Homo sapiens: one gene and its partners. The protein of the gene in region 7 purifies or fractionates together with the protein of the main gene of each other region. This does not show direct contact. Each region holds a gene or a part of one and is shown on either strand. Other genes may lie near its edges. The genes, in order: LETM1, TARS1, MTHFD1, MDH1, ESD, RDX and MYLK4.

Evidence for each region.
Region 1: the proteins of MYLK4 (region 7) and LETM1 purify together in Homo sapiens (affinity purification with mass spectrometry; one large-scale study listed by BioGRID and IntAct). This does not show direct contact.
Region 2: the proteins of MYLK4 (region 7) and TARS1 purify together in Homo sapiens (affinity purification with mass spectrometry; one large-scale study listed by BioGRID and IntAct). This does not show direct contact.
Region 3: the proteins of MYLK4 (region 7) and MTHFD1 purify together in Homo sapiens (affinity purification with mass spectrometry; one large-scale study listed by BioGRID and IntAct). This does not show direct contact.
Region 4: the proteins of MYLK4 (region 7) and MDH1 purify together in Homo sapiens (affinity purification with mass spectrometry; one large-scale study listed by BioGRID and IntAct). This does not show direct contact.
Region 5: the proteins of MYLK4 (region 7) and ESD purify together in Homo sapiens (affinity purification with mass spectrometry; one large-scale study listed by BioGRID and IntAct). This does not show direct contact.
Region 6: the proteins of MYLK4 (region 7) and RDX purify together in Homo sapiens (affinity purification with mass spectrometry; one large-scale study listed by BioGRID and IntAct). This does not show direct contact.

The regions. Positions count from the first base shown.
Region 1 is NC_000004.12:1,849,657-1,853,156, forward strand, and holds part of LETM1 (mitochondrial proton/calcium exchanger protein precursor), read right to left. Parts: intron 1-3,500. UniProt on the Homo sapiens protein: Plays an important role in maintenance of mitochondrial morphology and in mediating either calcium or potassium/proton antiport. Mediates proton-dependent calcium efflux from mitochondrion.
Region 2 is NC_000005.10:33,464,965-33,468,586, reverse strand, and holds the end of TARS1 (threonine--tRNA ligase 1, cytoplasmic), read right to left. Parts: intron 1,717-3,622; coding exon 1,602-1,716; intron 1,028-1,601; coding exon 879-1,027; 3' UTR 501-878; downstream 1-500. UniProt on the Homo sapiens protein: Catalyzes the attachment of threonine to tRNA(Thr) in a two-step reaction: threonine is first activated by ATP to form Thr-AMP and then transferred to the acceptor end of tRNA(Thr).
Region 3 is NC_000014.9:64,457,439-64,460,525, reverse strand, and holds the end of MTHFD1 (C-1-tetrahydrofolate synthase, cytoplasmic), read right to left. Parts: intron 2,313-3,087; coding exon 2,223-2,312; 3' UTR 2,219-2,222; intron 768-2,218; coding exon of another isoform or gene 591-767; 3' UTR 501-590; downstream 1-500. UniProt on the Homo sapiens protein: Trifunctional enzyme that catalyzes the interconversion of three forms of one-carbon-substituted tetrahydrofolate: (6R)-5,10-methylene-5,6,7,8-tetrahydrofolate, 5,10-methenyltetrahydrofolate and (6S)-10-formyltetrahydrofolate.
Region 4 is NC_000002.12:63,598,963-63,602,462, reverse strand, and holds part of MDH1 (malate dehydrogenase, cytoplasmic), read right to left. Parts: intron 3,294-3,500; coding exon 3,171-3,293; intron 1-3,170. UniProt on the Homo sapiens protein: Catalyzes the reduction of aromatic alpha-keto acids in the presence of NADH. Plays essential roles in the malate-aspartate shuttle and the tricarboxylic acid cycle, important in mitochondrial NADH supply for oxidative phosphorylation.
Region 5 is NC_000013.11:46,780,162-46,783,661, reverse strand, and holds part of ESD (S-formylglutathione hydrolase), read left to right. Parts: intron 1-870; coding exon 871-995; intron 996-2,046; coding exon 2,047-2,166; intron 2,167-3,500.
Region 6 is NC_000011.10:110,258,615-110,262,114, reverse strand, and holds part of RDX (radixin), read left to right. Parts: intron 1-3,500. UniProt on the Homo sapiens protein: Probably plays a crucial role in the binding of the barbed end of actin filaments to the plasma membrane.
Region 7 is NC_000006.12:2,744,423-2,747,922, forward strand, and holds part of MYLK4 (myosin light chain kinase family member 4), read right to left. Parts: intron 1-3,500.

The DNA of each region.
Region 1 (3,500 bases), on a different chromosome or scaffold from region 7:
AGGGATCCTTTTGCCTCAGCCTCCCAAGTAGCTGGGACTACAGGTGTGCACCATCAGGCCAGGCTAATTTTTGTAAAGACGGGGTTTCGTTTTGTTGCCTAGGCTGGTCTCCAACTTTTGGCCTCGAGCGACCCTCCTGCATTGGTCTCCCAAAGTGTTGGGATTACAGGCGTGAGCCACCACTCCCAGCCTGAAACCTTCTTTTAAGTCTGAAAGAAGGCGGGGCGCCGTGGCTCACGCCTGTAATCCCAGCACTTTGGGAGGCAAAGGCGAGTGGATCACCTGAGGCCAGGAGTTCAAGACCAGCTTGACCAGCGGTGAAACCTCATCCCTACTAAAAATACAAAATTAGCCGGGTATGGTGGCACATGCTTGTAAACCCAGCTACTTGGGAGGCTGAGTCAGGAGAATAGCTTGAACCTGGGAGGCAAAGGTTGCAGTGAGCTGAGATCGCACCATTGCACTCCAGCCTGGGCAACAAGAGTGAAACTCCGTCTCAAAAAGAAAAAAAAAATCTGAAAGAGTACAGATCTCTTTTGTAGAAACCTCTGTAAGTTTCTGGAAGCCAGTTCTGAGTGTTGGAAGGTTTCAGAGCACTGCTAAGTGAAGGGTCTGCCCCAGTTATGAAAACAGTATCTCAAAGTAGTCCTAAAAAAAGATGGGAAGCCTCAAGTAGATCCTGACTCCAGACACCCCAAGAGGGAAGCCAAGCAGGCCAGCCCTAGGGAGGGAGCACTCCTACCGGTGGCACCATCCCCACTCACTTCAGCTGGCTCTGGTGGAAACATGACCTCTATGCAGACAGCCCTATAGAGCAAGCAATGATCCCAAGGGGCAAGAGCTGTAAGAATTACTACAACCGGACCGGGCGCAGTGGCTCACGCCTGTAATCCCAGCACAGACGTGAACCCGGGAGGCGGAGCTTGCAGTGAGCTGAGATCGCACCACTGAACTGCAGCCTGGGCGACAGAGCAAGACTCTGTCTCAGAAAAAAAAAAAAAAAAAAAAAGAATTACTAGAACCACAGGCCGGGCATGGTGGCTCACGCCTGTAATCCCAGCACTTTGGGAGGCTGAGGCGGGTGGATCACCTGAGGTCAGGAGTTCAAGACCAGCCTGGCCCACATGGTGAAACCCCATCTCCACAAAAATAAAAAAAAATTAGCCGGACATGATGGCAGGTGCCTGTAATCCCAGCTACTCGGGAGGCTGAGGCAGGATAATCACCTGAACCCTCCGGGAGGCAGAGGTTGCAGTGAGCTGAGATCGCGCCATTGCACTCAAAAAAAAAAAAAAAAAGAGAAGAACCACAAAAACACCAAGAGTAAGCCATTTCTTGTATAAACAACAGTGATAAGTGTACAGCACATTTTTAGGATTTCAACATGTTTTTGATGCTTTCCCTAACTTGCTCTAGTTCCTATAAGCATAAAGTCAGAGTTCATTCGTATTACTGACATTCAGAGCCCATTGTGATCAAACTTCATGCTGGGAACAAGACAGGAATAGGAGCAGCAGGGCCAGAGGCACCAGCCCACGGAGGTGCCAGGCCAGGCTGTGCAGAGGCTAGGCGGTGCCGGGAGCCAGCAGGTAGCACCCTGAGATGCCCAGTGACCTTGAACCTCCAAGCAGTGGGGTTGCAATGAGTCAACAGCCAGGGAGCAGCAAGTGCAGCTTTAAGATGGGGGGAGCTCACTCCAGCCGGCAACGAGAGCCACCGTGAGAGGACGAACAAGATGGGGAGGGCAGGCACTGACCCTGCTCCTAGTGGACCGATACGTCACTTCACCTCATTTAACAGGAGGCAACTCTCCTGGTTCTGTGGGGAAGGAAATTCCTACTACGTGCCACATTTAGGGCTTGTAACAGTCCGGTCTGTGAACTGGGAGCTGGGTTAAGGGGAAAATGTTGGCTATGTTCTCATACACAGCAAGTTACATTTTAAGTTAAAATTCAAAGCACAGCACACGTGAGCATGCCAAGGCCCTTCTCACTCCAGCTGAGACTAGCTTTGGCCCCCACCTTTCTCCACATGAAGAGGGCCCAGCGCATTCTCCGCTATCCTCCCCACACCATGGCACCTTCAGCCCCTCCACCCCTGCCCCGGCCAGCTCCTGTGCCTCAAGGGCTCCGCCCGGCAAGCAGGCAGGCTGGCAGGTCTCCCAGAGTTCCCTGATCTGTCCCCCAGTGACCCTACCTTCTCTCTAACACTGCCTGTCCCACTGGCTCCCTTACTAGGCTCTCCCCAAAACCTGTTCTGACGGCTTCTGTCCCCAGCTCTCCAAGGAACCCCCAGTCAAGGCCGTTCGGGGTGATGGGGATCATTGCTCCACGTCCCTCACGAGCACAGGTGTCATCTGTGCCCAGGCCCTGCTGGGAGCCCTTCTGTTCTTTTTTCCAACACCAACGAATTCTCCAACTGGGAGTCCAACAATTTAATTCCATACTGACACTACCCAGAGTTAGTGCAGACCTCACAGGGTACGGGCTCAGTCCCACAAGACTGCCCCCACTCCATGTGCCCAGGCTTACCCAACTTCAGCTGACCACACATTTGAGGGTTCCCATGACCGCCTTGGTTTTGATCATTCACAAGAATGACTCAGATGTCAGCAATGGGCTCTACTTACTGTCACAGTTTATTATAAAGGGTACCTGGTACCTAGGAACAACCAGACAGCATGGCCAGGGAGGTCCCGAGCACAGGATCCTTTGTCCTGTGGAGCTAGGTGGACGCCAGTGGGAAGCCTCACCAGCCTCCTCACCCAGAAGTTCTCATCAAGGCTTCATGACTGATTACAGTATTGGCCCACTGGCCATGGGGACTGAACTAAATCTCCAAACCCTCTCGCCTCCCTGGAAGGGGCAGGAAGTTCCCACCCTCTAATCACAGCATGGCCAGCACCTCAATCTATCTAAGGGCCTGCCTGGAGTCACCTCATCAGCATAAACTCAGGTGCAGTGATAACGAATAACAGAAGACACTCCCAAACTCACGCCTGTAATCCTAGCACTTTGGGAGGCCAAGGCAGGTGGATCGCTGTTGAGCTCAGGAGTTAAGCCTGAGCAACAGAGACCCTGTCTACAAAAATGTTAAAACATCAGCTGGCAGGAGGATCGCTTGGAGGCTGTGGTGAGCCATGATCAAGCTACTGCACTCCAGCCTGGGTGACAGAGCAAGACCCTGTCTCAAAATACAAACAAATGAAAAAAGACACTCCCATCATTCAGGAAACTTCCAGGGTTCTCAGCCCTCAGTGCTGGTGCCAGGATCAGGTCAAAGAACAAACAAACCTTTCTTCACCTGGCTTCACCCTTGCCACTCCTGGGAGAGCCTCCCTACCTGACCTCCACCTCCTCCCCAGGCAATCTCTTCCCTGACTTGAATACACACGCCCCACAGGTCTGATGGGCACGGCACAGTCCACACCTCCAAGAACTCTCAACTAGCGCCCCTCCTCATTCTGCTCCTCCCCAAGTCCTCCCCAGTTTCAACAAATG
Region 2 (3,622 bases), on a different chromosome or scaffold from region 7:
TTAAAATATCATTCTAACAAGGAGGAATTAGTATTTATCCACATAAGAAATTATTTACTTTGTGCTGTCCTTTCAATCACCATTTATTGGTAGAAGATTTTGAAAATGATCCCTTATGAGAAAATAGGGAATTTGTAAACCAAGTGATTCTATGGTCCAGAACAGTCTGCCATAAACAGATATTTCTCTGAAGATTCACGTTTTATCTTAAACATTTGTGCAAATCTACTCTGTAATAGATCCATGGTAGTTTTTGTTTGAAAAGGTGTCCATCCAACATTAAGTAAAAATGACACTCCCAAAAGTGTTTATCCTCTGAGAAGCCAGCACCCAGCTCACACCCAGTTTATGAATAGCATTATGATGCTGCAGACCTACCCCGTCTCCATCCACCCTGCATTATATTTGCTGTAAAACTGTAAAGATAAATACTGAACCACATTATCTGTCTCAGGCATGTATGTGTACATGTGAGGGACAGAGCAGTCTTGAAACTTATGTGAATAAATTTTTTTTTTATTTTTACACCATAATCCAATTCTAGTTATCTTAATTGAATTTGAAAACTTTTTCAATTGCATTAAATTTACAAAAAAGTTCTCCCACATTACACTAAAGCATTCCTCATGTTTCACTTCCAGTACTCAGATACTGAATGAGTAAAATCATTTTATTGGCTCTCTTTTAATTAACTCCTTCAAATGCACATTGTTTAAAAACTGACTAGGTCAAAAATAGTTACGCCTGCAGGTTGACCTATTCAGACTTTGCCAAACTCCTCCAAGTTCAATATAAATTGACGTTTTCAGAGTACAAAGTCAATTTTACGGAAACGCTGTTCCTCCTTTTCCATGGAGCCAATCTGGGTAATTTTTTCATTAAAATTCTTCTTCTGCCTGTTTGCTGCGGAACTCTTTGAGCTGCTGTAGCCGCTCGATAGTTTCAGAAATGGTGCGTTCCCCGTGGACCTTATTGTCTCTTGTGCGGATATTAACAGTGCCACTGATTTTCTCTTTTTCACCAACAACTAAAACAAACACACAAAGCTTTGTCAGACTTAATCTAAAGATATGGAAGAATTCACACTGAACATCTGAAAAGAAATGATCCTAGGACCCAAAACCTACCCCATAGCTTCTGATACATTAAAAGGTACAAGTGACCATGTGTTGATATTTAAAAGAAACTCTTTGCAATATCTAAAACTACTGTGCTTATGGAGTCAATCTAGACAACGTAACAACCAAATAATAAAACCCCAAACATCATGAATATCTTTTTTCAAGTAATCCCACATAAGGCATTATCTTGAGAAAGTAATCCAATAGATGTGTTTAAAAGCAATGCGTCTTCATTCTTGTTATAATAGCAAAATATTTTCTCACAGACATCCATGATTTAAGTGAAAAAAAAAAAAACCCAGTATGTATGCATGAGCCTATTTTTATAGTTATTATATATTAAAATATATAATAGAAAAAAAATCAGGACTGGAAGGAACTAAATAAATTCTTGATTACAATTCACTTAAACCTGTCTCAAGGTTTCAGTAGATTTTCCTGAGGTGTGGCAAATTTTCTTTGGTAAGTTTCCATTCTTACCTAAAATGAAGTTATACTGTGCTAACTGTGCATTTCGAATCTTTTTATTCAATGTACAGCCTGGATCCAGATCAATGTCTGCCATGAATTTGGCATCGTGGAATTGTTGTCGTACCTATTGTAACAGAGATACAGAATTTGTCAGATCTAAAATCAGAATTATATTTTGATCTCACATGATTTTACTGAACACAGGGATCAGGACTTCTTGGATGAACTTCCAGGAATTTAAAGCTGGCAAAACTGTCTTAGATAATATTATTCACTGCCATTATTCCCCCCTCAAAAAGGCCAGCTCCTCTTTATTACCTCAGGTCATGTGTATTAAGTAAACAATGTTTTCAGTATTCTTTTCCAAAAAAGCAATAAACTAGATTACAATTTATTAATTTTACATTAACTAGATTAAACTTCCCATTAACCTGATAACATATTAACATGACAAAAAGACCTAAATGAACAATTTTATTTCACTATCATTTCATATGAACCTCAGATTACAGATGTGAAAAATATCACACGATCAACACCTGAAAGAAATGATCTTCAACTGAATAAATCTTAACTTCTGAGTATCAGAAAGTTTTTTTTTTTAATCAGGTTATCAGAGGCATTAGTCCCTTAACTTTAAAATAGAATAATATTTAATAGTCTAAAAGTAATTTAGATTAGAACAAATTAACAATGAGTATAAAAAATGTTTCTGTTCAGCCTGCTATGAGAGTTGGGCATTTTACATTCAAATCACCCCACACGTGGCAGAAAACTGTTTCCTTACAGTGGCCATTAACCCAAAGGAAGAACAGGAAAGTTGGAGGACGCTGGTGTTCCTTCCTCATCTCTGCCATAGAGACAGTACCATTGGGCTTTCACGCAAAGCCATGTGAGCAGTGACGGCCTATCCTCTTTTTGTAGACGCAGAAGTTACACTGTCTACTAGCAGAATCACCATCACAATTCCACCCAGACCTCTTAGAAGGGTCAGAGTTTCTGGAAATCCTGGTCAGAAAGCAGAATGAATTTTTCCAGGAAAACATCTTAAGTACAGCTGAAGGTGAAATAGTAACTATCATACTCTACTTAAGTATCATGAGTAAAACCAGCAATCTCTGGTTGACCTGGGTGACGAAATATTTCTTTCAATTTTTGATTGAAAAAGATTCTAAATGATCTACAACACATTCATTTCTCAAATGCGAGTTATGTGTAAACCAAGGGTTATTTATGTATGTCAAATGTTTATTTCTATAAGGCATACTTTTTGAAACAATCTAAGTGACTTTGCCTATACTGTGCACAAGTCTTAGCATTTTAACTAGATTTTTAAGCCACAGTGATCACGAACCAATTAACCTGTTGACATTTTATTACACCCATTTCAGAAGGGTTGTTACAGAATTTTAGAATGCCAAGATAGGTCTACATCTTCAACTTATAACTACTTTAAAGAATAAGGCATCAGTTTCTTCATTTTTCTCAACATGGGTCCTGTGTGTGCACGTGAGATGGGCAATTCTGCAGTTGGGGAAGTGGCCTGATAATTACAGGGTGTTTAACATGTCTGCTCTATAGTTATTAGGTATCAGGAGTACTGCCCTGTCTTCTCTCCCCGCAAAAGAAAAGCTTACCACCACATAATCTGGAATGCCACCTACCCGCAAAGGGAAATGGGGAAGTCAGTGCTGTCTCCAGTTGAGAACTCAGTTAACCAATACAGAACTTCTTCCTACTGTGTGAGTTTTCACATACAAATAAGACAAAGTGCACTCAACCATGGAACATAACTTTGATTGTCATCATTTGTAACTAAAACTACTGAGTGCAGTAACAGGAATAGTCTGAATGGTTTATCTATTAGATGGTTTAGTGTTCACTTCATTTTTTTTATTTATTTATTTGTTTTTATTTATTTATTTTTTTGAGATGGAGTCTTGCTCTGTCACCCAGGCTGGAGTGCAGTGGCATGATCTTGGCTCACTGCAAGCTCCGCCTCCTGGGTTCATTCCATTCTCCTGCCTCAG
Region 3 (3,087 bases), on a different chromosome or scaffold from region 7:
GAGACACTGTCTCAAAAAAATAAAAATAAAAATAAAAAGTCTGTAGGGAAGGGTGGAGCCCAGGCATTTAGAAGAAACTCAATGAATACTTGCTGCACCAACAGAATAGAGGCTCACCTAAGGCTAATGCTGCATGACCATCCTTCTTGAGCACTCTAAACATAGACAGTGCTAAAGCTGTGACAGAAATGGGAATTCCAAGGAAGTTCAGGCAAAAACTTGTATAAGCAATACTTCCTCAGGGTAGAAAAACAAAATTCAACAATATAGAAAGGTATAAGATTAAAAGGTAAGTCATCAACTTCCAACCCAACCCTCTCAGGAGGTCCCCTGAATTATGTGTCCTCTCAGAAATACACAAGCATGCATACATTTCCCTCTAAACACAACAGTATCATAAAGGGCACACTGCAACTTGCATCTTCAGCCCAAGGGTCTGCCTGACAAATGAGCTCACAAAGGATGGCAGAGACCTGTGGCACAGTCTGTTAAGGCTGTAATTCATATTGCAACACCAAGATGGCAAACTTGTTTCCTTTTATTCTGTGGAACGTCACTAAAGTAAACAGACATGCATGATTTATGTTAATTTATACATGATGAGAATTAAGGCTGAAAATGACTTCTGGGGAAACTCCTACTATTAGTTTCAGATCTTCTGGGCAGGGGCTGACTTCTCTTGGCTTACTTATACTTCCTAACTCCCAGTGGGCCTGAATAGACACTGGCCAGACTTTCAAAGTAGCTTCTTGAAGATGGATGGTGATCTGGAAGGAAAAACAAGAAATAAATGTTTTCTCTAAGCAAGCACTGAAATGTTTCCTGTTCCTTCCATACTGCACCATTACCCACTCACATTGCCAAAGCTGTTAACATTTACATCCTTTCCTGCCACCAGCTCTTCTAGGGCGTGTCCATAAATGGACTTGAAAATGATGCATGGTATTTCCATAGTACTGTGTGAATACTGTTCAAGACCAGACCAAGCCGTGAGCCATGACTGCATTTCGAGTATCACACATACCCTCTCAAAGAATAGTGTTCTAGCATCAAACTACAGTTTGCTTCTACTTGGACCTTAACTTTCTCAAATAATGCAAGAGCTTTTGTTTTATACTATGACCCTTTGATATCCTTGTCTTTTCTAGCTTTTTCTAGTTTTTCTCAGGTGCTCCCCCAACCTGTTCCACACAGGATTTGTAACTTCAGGTCATTTGCATGGTTATCAGAATGCCCCTTCGCTAATGTCCAAATGAGGGTTCAGTTTCCCAAAACTCACGTCTTCCTTTTTTCTTGGTTAATTCCTCATTTTGCTAAGTACATTGCTAAATAACTTCTTAGGAAGAGATGTGGGGTGGCAAACCCTTGCACGTCTGAAAATATCCAGATAGATTCGGCTAGGTGTGAGCACATGTTGAAAGTCATCTTCCCTGTGACCTTACAGGACACTCCTCCATTGTCTAAAAGCTTCTTATTGCCAGTAAGACGGGCGTTAAGTCTAGTTCTCATTCTTTTCATAGGCAAGCCACTTTTTTCGTCTCTGGAGAAAGATGTTAGGATTTTCATGTTTGATATTTTTGCAGTTTCAACAGGATGTGTCTAGGGATATAAGTGCACACTGCAACTTGCTGCTTCAGCCCCAAGGGTCTGCCTAAGGAGAGACACGTCCTGTTGAAATTTCAAAAATATCAAACAATGCAATGTCACTCATTGCAGTCGGTACTCAGGGCCCTTTCACCTAAGGCCCTAAGAACTGCCAGATTGGTCCTGTTTCCTTCTCTTTTCTATTATACTTCCTAAGACATTTGCTAATTCTTGCCTTCTAACTACCTATTCAGAGTATACAGACCGTCAGCTGTTCCTGACCTGCAATGTGTCATCAACTCTGAACCCCAAGCCTCCTGGGGCTTCAGCAGAGGGAGTCTAACCTCTCCTGTAGTTTCCTCTGTAGTTTATTGGACAGCAGTTTTCTCCCCTACACTGTCAACCTGTGACAAGCCATGCTGCGCTTCTTCCAAAAATGTGTTGAAATATAAATATTTCAATTCATTGGTTATTGCCAACTCTCATTACTATCCCCTCTCCCCTCAGGGAAGTCTGAAAAGAAATGTTTTGAAAGCATTAGAATGTGAATTTTTATAGCGTCAGTTTGAGCCCTATAATTCATAAATAAGCTACATGAGGAAAAAAGCCAAATTATTACCCAGTAACAACTTACCTGTTTAGAATAATCCATTCACCTGTTCTGTTTCAGGGTCCAAATCAATATCATAAAAACAGGGCCGGGTGGGGAGTCCAGGCATTGTGCTCATCTAGGATGTAAAAAAGCATTACAAATAAACTAATGCTGGGCACAGTGGCTCACGCCTATAATCCCAGGCTGAGGTGGAGAGGATCACTTGAGGCCAGGAGTTCTAAACCACCCTGGGCAACATAGTGAGACCCCCATCTCTACAGGAAATAAAAAATTAGCTGGATATGATGGCATGTGCCTGTAGTTCCAGCTACTTGGGATGCTAAGGCAGGAGGATTGCTTGAGGCTAGGAGGTTGAGGCCACAGTGAGCCATGATCATCCGATTGCCTGGGCGACAGAGCAAGGCCATGTCTAAAATAAACGTAAAGTCATCTTTACTTTCACTTTTCCTTCAGAAAGAAAGCCCAAGGCATAAAGATAGAACATCATTTTATAGTTGTCAATAAAGTGGGTACTCTTGTTACATATTAAAAATCAAGTCACTGATCCTGTTAAAAAACTCAGAAACTGATCCCTGCCGGGCGTGGTGGCTCATGCCTATAATCCTAGCACTCTGGGAGGCCAAGGCAGATGGATCACCTGAGGTCAGGAATTTGAGACCAGCCTGACCAACATGGTGAAACCCCATCTCTACTAAAAATACAAAAATTAGCTGGGCATGGTGGCGTGTGCCTGTAATCCCAGCTACTTGGGAGGCTGAGGCAGGAGAATCGCTTGAACCTGGGAGGCGGAGGTTGCAGTGAGCCGAGATCTTGCCACTGCACTCCAGCCTGGGTGACAGAGCAAGACTCCATCTCAAAAAAAAAAAAAAGGAAAAGAAAAGAAACTGATT
Region 4 (3,500 bases), on a different chromosome or scaffold from region 7:
TGTAAGGTACCATCAATGGGTGATGGGTACATGGGCCTTCTCTGTACTATTTTTTTGCGACTTTTGAGTCTAAAATTATTTCAAAATAAAAAGCAAAAAAAAAAAAAAAAAAAAACCCCAACCAACCAACCGAAAAGGATAAAGATGAAAAAAAAGGCCATTACCTAAAATGTCTGCAATGACTCGACTGGTCTTCATACTAATTTATTCAGTTAAGTAAGAAGTAAACTGTCTTTACTTTCACTCCCACTCTTAAACTAGTTGAGACTGCTTTCTTAAATCCTAAAATAGTTAAAAGTTTACTTAAAAATTTATGTTTGTGATATTGTAAATCACTTTTGACCGATCTAATCCCTGCAAGTCTTGCAAGTATTAGGACTATTATCTACAATATTTGCATTAGTCTCCACAAATTAGTTCACAGTTGGGTTTCTGGGGTACCCAGCTATTGATCTGCTTAGCCTGTGGGATAGGGTAGAGTGGCACGCTGTTCAATGAGTACCATTTTTTACGTCTGCCATGACCAGAAAGAACTGGGGAAGAAACTGCTCTTATATTTATACTTAAATTTAGCTGGTATGGTATATAGAAAAAGATAAATTTATACCTTGAACAATTAACTCAAGATATATATTACCAGGAAGTTAGAGCCTATAACTTCCCTGAATGTCTGCTTCAATGCTCCCAAGTACAGTGAAGACAAAATGCCTCTAGGCCTCTCCACCCTCAGTCCTCCTTGGCTCCCATGCCTTCCTTTGTTCTTGTTGCCCTCCTCCTCTTGCTCCTTCTATCTCTTGAGCTAATCCAGTTCTGTCTGGACAGCAAAGGCCAGGTACTTTGCATCCAGCAGATATAGTTTCTTAATATGATTCATGTCACAATTAGTCTAAATTAATACATACCCAGGATAACAGCTCTTTGCTCCCTTAGACACTCATGTCTGTCACATAGGTCTGTTAAAAGTTTTTGATTAATTCTCCAGCCCTAGTAATTTTCTTACAAGCTAACTGGTATCATTGTCAAATTACCTTATCTGGTATCAATGTCAAATTACCTTATCAGCAGACATAAATACAGCACTGGTTTGCAAATACACAGGCAAGTTCTGCAGGTGTTAAACAGTCCCTAAGTCGCTAAGGCCTCTGAATTCCAAGACAAAAATATCTAGCAACCAGTCCTGTAAGAAAAACTTATCTTTGGGTTTGTTATTTTTCTCACTGGATAAACAACTTCTTCTAGAGGAAGAAAGTGCTTCTTCAATGACTCCCTAAAAGCTCTCACTATGCCAGATTGACATGCTGAAACAATGCCTAGCCAAGGTCCCAGGAGTAACAAAGAACATGTCCCCAAGTGAAGGTTAAAGTCTGAGGAGATAGCACTTTCTTTCCTCTTTGCTCATTCAGACTTGAGCCCTGCAGTGAGAACTGTTTCAGGCACCAGGACAAAGTATCTCTTTGAAGTACCTTTGGAAGCAGAATTTTCCAATGCCTGTCTCCACCAAAGCCTCAGGTGAAACAACAAAAAGTGGTTGTTAGTGTCATTGTTGTAGGAACTTTCTTGTTGTAGGAACTAAATAAGTCACTTTCTGGCAATCCAGAGTTTGCAACTGTAACATGTATAATATCTCTTCCTTTACAACTGTCCCACAGAACTCAAACTGCCTGCCATTCAAACAAACTCCTATTCGTTCTCAGCTACCACCAGACCCAGCTCACAGCCTATAGCCTCTCAGGGAATATTTGCACTTTAAGCTAAAAATTTAAGGGTTGTTATCCAACAACCCTCTAAATTAGGAATGTTTAGGCTGTATGCTTCTTAGAAAGAAGAAATCAACTAATAATAGCAGCCAACCTTTCTTGTATTTACTATGTGCAGGCACCATGCTAAGGGCTTAAAACAGATCTTATTTAATCCTCATAAGAACTCTCTGAGGTAGATACAATTATTACATTTTAAACATTGAATATACTTTCTCAAAATCACAGAGCTAGTAAGTGGACTAAGGTTAGTTGATACCATTAGGTAAGAACATACATAAGGGTTTGGAGTCAGGCAAATCAAGGTGGCTCCGTAATTTATGAGCTGTATGACTCTGAGCAGGTTCTCTGACTTCCCTGGGCCTCAGTTTTCTTACCTAATGCAGGGATAATATGAGATACCCATATGGTTACTATAAAAATTAAATGGAAAATTACATGTATAGCATTCAATTTACAGTAGATGCTTAACAAATGTATATTCTTTTCTCTTTCACTAGGCATTCCAGAGCTGAAGGATTATTAATTCTCAGGTTAGGGCAGTAGTGCTTCAGCTTAGACCTCACAGCATCTTCTGGTTAACAACAATTTTTTTTTGAAACTAAAGTTATCTTCTCTAGAAGAAAAAGCACTGAACTCATAGACCTATCTAGCAGTGATGACCTACAGACAAGAAGGGATGGCCAGAAAAGCATTAGGGCAAAGGAAAGAGGTTCTGTCCAAGAACGGGCACCAGGACCAGTTAGATCTGAAAAAGCCTAGGAAACTAGCTCAGATCAGTTGCCTGGCTTCTAATTTTTTGAAAAGCTATTGTTAATTCCCTGGTCACTGGCTCCTTGGCATACTTATCTATGGCTCTAAGAGTAAAGAAAATTAGCAACAGACTTTAGCTCCTAAGTAGTGAAAGGAGGAAATTTTACAGATACACATAGAATATTAAAAAGACATAAAATGAAAATTAAATATAAAATTAAAAATTAAAATCTGAATTTGATGGCTTAGCTGCAGCTAAAATAGAAGCAGAACCACACAATCACACAAAGCTCAAGTCTTTGTTTATATGAGATTATATGTATCTGAAAAAATTAAACTAAATTATGTACCATCATGTATAACTAATTTTTAACCACTGTAACAAGAGAACATTAGTAACTGCATTTCATTATAGTTAGCAATTGAAATATAGTTAAAGACGAAATCAAGTAGGAAGTCCAGCCTCTGGTCCTTTAAGAGAATACATTTAAAGACTCCCTAACAAATGAATAATAATTTACTTTTAATTTAATAAAAGTAATAGGTTCCTACTAAACAAAAACAAGAAAAAAGCACAAACTCAGATTCAGTTATTTTAAAAGTGAGAGAAAAATGTTTTAAAGTTGAACAACCACAAGATTTAAAATATATTTTTCTTACTTGAGCTTTAGCTCGGTTGTGATCCAAACGAGTCAAGCAACTGAAGTTCTCCTTGGGGATGGATGGAGCTGACTTGGAAGCAGTCAGGCAGTTGGTATTGGCTGGATTACCCACAACAATAACCTAGGAGGAATGGAAGGCACTGAAGAGTTACAGACTATATAGTTACTAACTAATCTATGTTAAAATTTGACTGAAAATGTCTAACAGGTAGCCTTTGTACAGGGGAGGCTTGGGAAACACCAAATACAATATAGCATAGGAAAATGCATTTTAAGTTATAAAAATCTTTTATAAAATGGTAATAAAAAATTTTGAAATAATATCAGA
Region 5 (3,500 bases), on a different chromosome or scaffold from region 7:
ATATTTCCTTTCACAGGCCATATTATACAAAAACAATGCATATCTGGTTAGAAATATAACAACAGATTTAATTCAAAATAATATCAAAAATATAAAATACGAAAATAGATATATAAAAGGGAAACTAAAATTTTGTTATCATAAACGAAGACTTTAATAAATGGGAAAATGCTGTGTTTCTAGATGGATAAAATGAATCTTACGACAAGGTCATGTCTCCAAATTACTCTACGTGTTACTGTAATTCTATTCAAAATCCCAATGGTTGGCTTTTTAACCACATGCAAGTATATAAAATAAAATGTAACAAGTTAAAAAGAAACATAAGAAAATTCCAGTGGAGGTTGGATAGATAGGAAAAATGTGATGGAAAGCATATTAGAAAACATTTTCAGTTCAAGATAGTAAGTTGAGCACAAGCATCTGCCTCCCCACTCCTGTGTAAAGAGAATTTAAAAAGTGCTGATAGTGAGAGAGGGTCATCAGGGAAGGGATCACAACACATTTCTGAAAGATAAAAAGAGGATATAAGTCCTTTTTGACAGGTAAACCAGAGTAAGGAAACATATGTTCAGAGTACATAAGAAACTTCATCAACAAAGAAAGTTAGTGTATCTTACCTTGGCAGCTGAATACTCCAGCTTGGAAGGTCATTTTTTACCTCATTGGCCAGAACGAGTCGCAGGGCCCCATTCAAGGGCAAGAGGAGCAGGAAGTATAATCCTATCATGTGCTCCAAAAGGCAGAGAGCTCACAACATTTGGTGAACAGTTCCCATGCAAATGGACTTGCAGATTCATCTGAAAGTGTGTTATTAAACATGGGCCATTACTACAGAGCAGATGAAACCACAAGATTGTTTCTTGATAGGTGGCTGCAATATTAAAGGTGAAGATGAGAGCTGGGACTTTGGCACTGGTGCTGGATTTTATGTTGATGCCACTGAAGATCCTTGGAAAACCAACTACAGAATGTACTCTTATGTCACAGAGGAGGTAATTTAATTTGTATTGTAATTATTAATTGATGACTGCCAAGAGTTTGATTTTGAACACAAAGTCCTTACAATCCTGAGGATTTTAAACTAGGGTATAAAAGTTACTAGTAAAAATTCCAAAGTTTGCTAGTACTATAGTTCTATTTACTGCAATTTAAATTAACACTAAGTACAATTAAAGAATATAATCATTATATTGAGACCTGTTTATACTACCCAGAATAACCAAGAAAATGGTATATGAAAAAAACCTTTAATTTGCCTGGCAGCTGGTTCATTTGGATGTATTTTATAGTGATAAGCCAAGGCTTAGTTAGAAAACATAAGTGGTAAAGCATTACCTCTATTAATAATATTTGTATGCTGCTTATGCATTTTCTGAATTTTATATGATTTTCATTGTTACTATGTATATCATAAAAACTTAGAAACAATAGTGTAAGTTTTTAATTACCCATAATTCTGTTACCCCCCCAAAACACTTATGTTTTGGTATGTTCCAGACTGTTTCTATGACTAGTTTTCACGTAATTCTAAACTTTTTTATTTTCTTCTTCTTTTTAAGTTACATATAAAAATATTTTCTAGTGTTATTCTGATTTTAATAATTGTGTAATATTCTGTCATATGCCATAATTGACTTTTTCCTCTTATAGAATACTTATGGTTTTGTATATGTTTTTACCCTAATAAATATTACTGCATTGATTATATTTGTGCATAATGTTTTCTCCCTAAGGACTTTTCCTTAGAATATATTCCAAAAAGTGAAATTACTAGGTCAAAACTTAAAAGCATTTTAAAGGTTCTTTCTGCATCACCTTCCTAAAGTGTTTTCTAAGAAGTCTGTACCATATATTTTCCAGGGATATATTAATAATCATGGTCTGCCTGAGGATTTAGTTTTGTTTTGTTTTCATTGTTACTAGTTCAAACCATTGTAAGACTATGATTTGGCAGTATTGATTGTGTAATTATTTTCTGTAACTTTGAAATGTCTGAACTTATTTTCTTTGATATCTTTTGTCACACTATTAAATTTTTTCTAGCTTCCCCAACTCATAAATGCCAATTTTCCAGTGGATCCCCAAAGGATGTCTATTTTTGGCCACTCCATGGGAGGTCATGGAGCTCTGATCTGTGCTTTGAAAAATCCTGGAAAATACAAAGTAAGATTATCTAAACTTCTAGTGATAAATATTTCTCTTGAATAACATAATATTAGGAACCTTCAAAGAGTAAAATTACAATATTGTTAGTATTGGAACTAAACTTTTCTAGTGTTGAGAACTTTGGGGTGTTTGAAGGGTGGGTATTTAATTTGACCATAGAGTGTATGCTGCAGAATCAGACGCATAGGAATTCAGCAAGAGTGCTTTCTTATTGGCCTACTGGAAGTATTATAAAATGTAGCTTCTCCTTTAATTGTTTTTATTCCAACTATAGTTTTGAACACACTTTTTTTCTGTAAAGGTTATTATTACTGATTAATGTTATAGTGGCAGGATCTATCATTTATATTCTTACCAGGGATGTCTTTGTAAAGTTGACTTTGATTTTCTGAGGTAAAAGATATGATTTGTAGAAGCTTAAGAATTGTGTTCTTAATGCCTCTAATGAAAATTGAAATGCAGCTTGATTAAAAAACATCACTCTCAGCCTTTCCCAGAGTCAAATTTGAATAACTACCATATGTAGTATGTCATACTGTGCAGAACAGCATGTTACAAGAGTTGAATAAGGAAGTGTTAAAGCAACTAGCATCTTAAAATTTCTTCTGCCTTTAAATTTACAGGGCTGTTCATGCCCTTAAAATTGGTTTAATTCATTTCCTCCTCTTAGGAAGAACTTGATTATTTTAGGTGTGCTACTGAGAAATGAAAACATTTCTCATAACAGTTTCTTTCTGTGGCATCAAATATTTTGTTTTTGGTACGCTTTATTATCAAGTTTTATTAATTCATGGCCTGACAGTGGGCTTTCTAAGTAAGCACTTTTATTTCCATTTTTTAAGGCAGTCTATCATGTCTGAGGTAGAAAAGCAAACTTAGTTGATTTTTTTGTCCTTTAAAAAAGCTAGTAGATACCACTAAACATTTACATTGATGAGTACTCTGAAGTTGAGAGATCCCATCTCTGCATCTCATCCAGTGAAAAAGAACATTGTATAGAACACAGAGTTGTATTAAAAATTCTGTCATATTGAAATGCATTGCTCACTGCTTTGTTGGTACTGTTTAAGAGAAATGTGTCAGATTTAGTAACATGTTCACTAAGGTAAGCATGAACTGTTTTATATCACTATAGATTAATTTTCAGTGCTAAAAAAGCAGAAACGCTGAACATAGACTTCTGTTTGTATCTTAAATTGCAATGTATTGTTTTGCATTATTTTAGCAACTATACTTATTAGCTCTCTTAATAGAATACACAAAAGATGTATTATGGAAAGGCCTGCAATCTAAGCCAGCAATATATCAAAAGGAAAATTGTTCACAGGGTT
Region 6 (3,500 bases), on a different chromosome or scaffold from region 7:
AATTGAGTAATCAGACTATTATGGTGGAATTTCATTTCATATAAGGATTACCTTTTGTTTTATAATCAGAATTACTTTAATTTTTTTTTTAAATGTTAAAGAATAGGAATGCTTTATCTAAACAAGTACAGCATTGATCTTTCAGTGTTAAGCCAGATTGCTGTTTGGTTGAGCAGCAGATGAAGTAATTGGCTTACATTTCATAACTCATGTGATTGAAAAAAATCTCTTAAACACTACAATAACACACAAGCACAGTTTATTTTAAATATGGGTGTGCTCTAACCTACTCTATTTAAAAAGAAGGAAGGTGGCTAAATGCTTTAGATAGGGTTGCTTGTGGTTGCTAGTGCAAATGCCTATTTCAAGATTTGTTCCTTAATTTTGTAGGTCAGTTGTTCCTTCAGAGTTGATATTCCATGGAGGACTAATTCAAGCCATGTTATCTTAAAATGAGACTTAGTCATAAAGTTAGAATACCATTTTTTTTTCATTTTCTGTTTAGAACAGAGAGGATATTTTCACAGTGATTGGCTTATTCCAGTATGGTATATCGGACACTTTTTCTCAGTATCTAAGTACAGTCTGGGGAGGAAATGAGTAATTAGGTTATTTGGTGATAACAAATCAAATAAAATAATTTAGTGATTCTGATACATTCTGATTTCTTGTATTGAAAAACCCAGATGAGCAATCTGTTCTTACTGTAGAAAAGTTTAGCTCTTGTGGTATAGATAATTAGCTCCACCAGATAGTATTGCTTCCCTTTGAAAAGAGCTAAATATACATAAACTTTTACATACCAGGTTTCTGACTTGGGCGGCTGGGTATTTGGTAATACCTTTTATCAAAATGAGTGGAAGAAAAAATACATTTGAGGGGGAAGATGAATTCAGTTTTGAACCTATTGAGTTTGAAATATGTGCAATATAACCAAGAGAGATATCTGGTATTTATTTGCATATGTGGGTGCAGACCTTTTAGAAACAGTCTTGGACTATAGATACAGTTTTGGGAGTAATCAGTGAATAGATGGTAATTAAACCATGAGAATGAAAGAGATCAACCTACCAAGTACATAAAAATGAGAAAAAGACCTAGGACAGATCTTGTTGGACCTCAGCTTTTGTCTTTGGGTTCTGCATTCACAGAGTCAACCAACCACAGATTGAAAATATGTGAAAAAAATAACACAGCAATGAAAAGGTACAAAATTTTAAAAATACAGGATAACAATACATAGCATTTGTAGTGTATTAGTGTATTATTATACTACATAGTAGTAATAATATAGTGTATTAGTATTATTAGCCTAGAGATGATTGAAAGTATACAAGAGGATGTGCATAGGTTATATGCAAATATTGCACCATTTTATATCAGGGACTTGAGCATCCACAGTTTTTGGTATCCAAGGGGAGTCCTGGAAGCAATCCTTTATGGATATGGAGGGACAACTGTACTGAGACACTGGCCACAGATTCAAGAATAATTCTATACTAGAAGATGGCTGGGCATGGTGGCACATGCTTGTAATCCCAGCTACTCGGGAATCTGAGACCTGAGAATCACTGGAACCCGGGAGGCGGAGGTTGCAGTGAGCCAAGATGGCGCCACTGCACTCCAGCCTGGGCGACAGAGCGAGACTCCATCTCAGAAAACAAGAATAATACCAGAAGAGTATTATATCATGGAAGCCAAGGTAAAAGAATACTTTGATGAAGAGAATGGTCAGCACTGCCAAATGGTACCAAGAGGTCAAATATGAGGAGAACTAAAGTATCTGTTGGAATAAGGAGCTTGGTAGTGACCTTAGAAGAGCAGTTTCCAGCCGGGTGTGGTGGCTCACACCTGTAATCCCAGCACTTTGGGAGGCCGAGGTGGGCGGATCACCTGAGGCTGGGAGTTCAAGACCAGGCTGACCAACATGGAGAAACCCCGTCTCTACTAAAAATACAAAATTAGCCGGGCGTGGTGGTGCATGCCTGTAATCCTAGCTACTGGAGAGGCTCAGGCAGGAGAATCGCTTGAACCCGGGAGGTGGAGTTTGCAGTGAGCCGAGATCATGCCATTGCACTCCAGCCTAGGCAACAAGAGCGAAACTCTGTCTAAAGAAAAAAAAAAAAAGAAGAACAGTTACCATAGAGTATTGGGTGTTTGAGCCAGATTATGGTAGACTGGGGGCAGTGGATGTCAGGTATGGAAATTGAGGTTAGTGTATAATGGACAGTCCATAAAAGAAAGTTGTCTCTGAAAAAGAAAAAAAAATAGGGGTTGGGAAAAATTGATTAATTCATTTATTCACTCTACAAATTTTCGAGGCCCTCTTTAGTACTGGCATTGGGCATATAATTATGGTAAGCAATTGACTGCACTGGGTTATGTCTCCAAGGCTGATTGCATGCCTCTCTGTGAGCCCAGAGGCCAGACAGCAAGAAAGACAAGAAACTGTGGAAACCTAAGCTCTCTCAGAAGGAAGATGAAACTCTTCTCCCCAAAAGCAAGAGCTTGGAAAAGATGCCTAGAGAAAGGAGCAGAGTATAATAAGAACATAACAGTATGTCTGAGACCCCTTTAAGGAATTTACTCTAAGTAGTAGGTAACTTATCCAGGGGGAGATTTTATCATTCCTTTATGCTGCCAAGAAATCCTTGGGTTTCATGCAAGATTTTTTATATAGTAAAACAGTAATATTTTAACACCACAGCTTCTGCTGTCAGTAAAGTAGGATCTGGTAAATAAAGGTGAATAATTATCATATGAGCCAAAGAGAATAGAAGTCACAAACTGTAGTGTGCATAGTAGGTAACTTATAATCATGTTGACTTTGCTGATTTGGTGTTAAAATAGTAGTAGTAGAATATAATGTTTGTATTTGGCTGGGCGTGGTAGCTCACGCCTGTAATCCCAGCACTTTGGGAGGTCGAGGCAGGTGGATCACTTGAGGTCAGGAGTTCAAGACCAACCTGGCCAACATGGCGAAACCCCGTCTCTACTAAAAATACCAAAAAAACACACAAAAAAGAAAAATTAGCCAGGCATTATGGCGCACGCCTGTAATCCCAGCTACGCGGGAGGCCGAGAGCATCGTGGCACACACCTATAATCCCAGCTACTTGGGAGGTTGAGACAGGAGAATCACTTGAACCCAGGAAGCAGAGGTTGCAGTGAACCGAGATTGTGCCACTGCACTCCAGCCTGGGCAACAGAGCGAGACTCCATCTCAAAAAAAAAAAAAAAAAAAAAAGAATGTATTTGCTCACATTTGAATTAAGAACACTGGAAGGATACAAAAACAAGTTATTTGGGGGGTATTGGACTGGAGTATGACTTTTCACTCTACTTTTTAATTGAAAGTATTACCTACCTAAAACAACAAAATTAGTAGCAAAAAAGTAAATACATAAAGGAAGAATTAGGGCCCAAGAATTCTGGTTTTCAGTCTGGTCTTTATCTATTAACAATGAGCCATTTTTTTATCTAATGTTTTATTCCTTTGA
Region 7 (3,500 bases):
AGGGTGAGGAGCACAGGGATGGAGGTGGCGAAATGCAACTTGAAAAATCACAAAACCTCTGCCCTCAGCCTTGTTATTTTGAGATCTAAGTTATAGTCATTACGGATGGTGCTGATGGTACAATTTCACAGCAGATGGTCAGGAAATGCCACCTGGTGTTAAATCCACCAACTGCAATCAAAATAGGAAAATCCACACTTTACTCCAACCCACTGTCCCTCTGCACATCCTGTTAATAAATATTTTGCTTTGCTTGGTCTTGGGAGCATTTGTACCGGGCATTTAAACACTCCAGGGACAGTGGGGTCCCGAGTCTGCTGGGGCCATGCTTGTTTCTACCCCCACAGCTTTGGGATACCCCCTGGTTGGGATATGGAAGAACTTAAGCCAGGTTTTAAAAAGGAATTATTCCCTATGAAGGAAGGCTTTCAAACACAAATCAACAAGGGTTAGGATAAATTCAGAAATGATTTGCTTAGGGGTCTTCCAGGCGCGGATGTGGAACGGTGGGCTATGCTGACATATTTTTGTAGAGTGAGCATTCACAACCTGTGTCCTACTTTTATACTTGGGACCATGCCTTTTGGATGGAGGATGAGTAACTAGGGGTGAACAGGCAGGTGGGGAAAACCAACGGAGGAGGAGGAGAGCACAGACAACCCCGGGCCTCAGGAGCAGGGATGGGGGTGGTACACCGAGGAAAGCAGTGAGAAGCACGCAGGGCCGAATGGTTGGCTGAGAATATCACCAGGCACATTTGTGTTTCATTAAGCAAAGGGGTGTGGGGGTGTATATGAGACAGAGATCCTACTAAATATTCAAGTAAATCTGGGGGAAATACAACACGAGGGCTATTTACTATATAGATAACAGAGAACTGACAAAAGAAAAAAAACCCAGATTCAACTGTACAAAAATAATACTAATTATAGTTATGAAACCTGTTCATCATTTATAACTTAATGGTATGGACACAGTAGCTATCGAGCTCATCACTCATATGAGTCAGACCAATTTGGTCTTGTAAATTTTACTTGATTTCAACACCACACCGTGTACGTATGTTTAGATCTAGTTTATTATGGCATATGGTTATCTGCTGAAAACTTTTAAAATTTTACACAGTAGGTAGAATTTAGGTGATTTTGAACAGCCTTTGGAACATAATAGAATAAGAAAAGTCATTAGAAAACAGAATAAAAAGGAAAGTAGGAAAAATAGGCCACACACAGCAGCTCATGCCTGTAATTCCAGCACTCTGGGAGGCCAAGGTGGGAGGATCACTTCAGCACAGGAGTTCAAGACCAGTCTGAGCAACACATGGAGACCCCTGTCTCTACAAAAAAATACAGAAAGTAGCCATGGGTGGTGGTGCATGCCTAGTCCCAGCTACTTGGGAGGCTGAGGCAGGAGAATCACTTGAGCCAGGGAGGTCAAAGCTGCAGTGAGCTGAGATCACACCACTGCAATCCAGCCTGGGCGACAGAGTGAGAAGCTGTCTCAAAAAAAAAAAAAGAAACAAACAAACAAGAAAAATTAAAAGAACAAGGCCGGGCACGGTGGCTCACGCCTGTAATCTCAGCACTTTGGGAGGCCAAGGCAGGTGGATCATGAGGTCAGGAGTTTGAGACCAGCCTGACCAATGTGGTGAAACCCCGTCTCTACTAAAAATACAAAAAAAAATATAAAAAAAAATGAGTCAGGCGTGGTTGCGTGCGCCTGTAATCCCGGCTACTCAGGAGGCTAAGGCAGGAGAATTGCTTCAACCTGGGAGACGGAGGTTGCAGTGAGCTGAGATCGCACCACTGCACTCCAGCCTGGGTGACAGAGCAAGACTCCGTCTCAAAAAAAGAAAAAAAGAAAAAAAGAAAGAAAGAAAAATTAAAAGAACAAGAACTACTTAAGTAGAAGGAAGAAAAGAAGGCTATGAAGTGTTTCATAAACTCAGTAAAACATAGAGGAAAGAAGGAAGATGGCTAAAAATGAATTCAGTAGAAGAAAAATAAAAGAAATAGAAAAATCTGATTAAGAGCAGGAAAACAAAAAGAATCTGAGTTTTATCAAACTATTTTAACAAATATAAGTTGTTAAATCTATATAAAATTCTTCCCCTATTGGGACTGGAGAGTAGTTCCAGACTCTAAAGAAACTGCACTGCAAGCTTCCAGAACAAAGCTTTCATGTCACCAGAGTCTGAAATTCAGAGTACATTCTTTCCAGTGCACCACAGGGGATGTTTCTACTATGATTAGCCGTGCTAATCCCCTCAAAGAGAGAAGGGATGAGAGAGAAAGGGGAATAGGTGGAGAAAATCGACAAGCATGTTTTTATAGTCCCTGGAGAGAAAAGCGTGGCATTTTAAAGATTTACTGCTGCCCCAGCAGAAGATGAAGACGTGTTAATCTAGCTCTGTCTGCATACCTGAAGACATCTGAGCTGCTGGAATGTCCTTCTCCACCCACCCGCTGCCAAGCCTGCTGGCTGCCCTGGCACCCACCAACTAGGCAGGCAGGGGCTCCAGGCCATGGAAAGGAGAACTCTGTGCCTCTGACACATGCACCTATCCATTCTCCACGTGGACGGAGAGAGACAGGGAAATTTATTGCAGACATCTCTAGGCCCTTCTCCATTTACAAGTAAGAAATTGAATGGGACACATGGAGCTCCTAGTGATTCCTTCCCACCTTCCACAGGGTGTCAACTGCAGGACGGAAGCCAGGAGGCCCAAGTTACAGAAGGGATATGAGACTTACTATAAAGGACATTCTCTGATGGTTTCTAGGGGTTAAATAGCAGTCTCAATTTTTCCCTCAAAAACACCCTAAAAATATTTAACTTCCAAATCATCAACTTCTGGATGTAGTTGGCTGCACAAAAGTAACATCCCTACATATATTTATGTTCCAACTTAGCACTATCGCACTCTTTTTTTTTATCTTCAGAAACAGGGTCTTCCTCTGTTGCCCACGCTGGAGTGCAGTGGTGTGATCATAGCTCACTGCATCCTTGAACTCCCGGGCTCAAGCAATCCTCCTGCCTCAGCCTCCCAAGTAGCTGGGACTACAGATGTGTGCCACCATGCCCGCTATTTTATTTGTATTTTTTTATTTTTGTAGAAATAGACATCTCACCATGTCACCTGGGCTGGTCTCAAACTCCTGGCCTCCAGTGATTCTCTTGCCCCAGCCTCCCAAAGTGCTGGGATTACAGGTATGAGCCATGTGTCCTGCTTATCTCACTCTTTAGAGTGTTGCCCATTTATAAAAATTGTATCATAGATTTTGGAGAAAAACAGTACTTGAAAGATAATGAAATTCATATAAACTATTACAGTTAGTTGATGATTTCAAAGTTCTCCAAGAAGAATATTTTGTCTTCTCTGTCCTACCGAAATTAATAAACAGAAAAAATTATCCTGTTTGTACCACTGAAAACCCTAATGAGAAAGTCATGTCTCACTTAATTTTGCCTGTAGATATTTCTCCTTGGTCTATATTGAA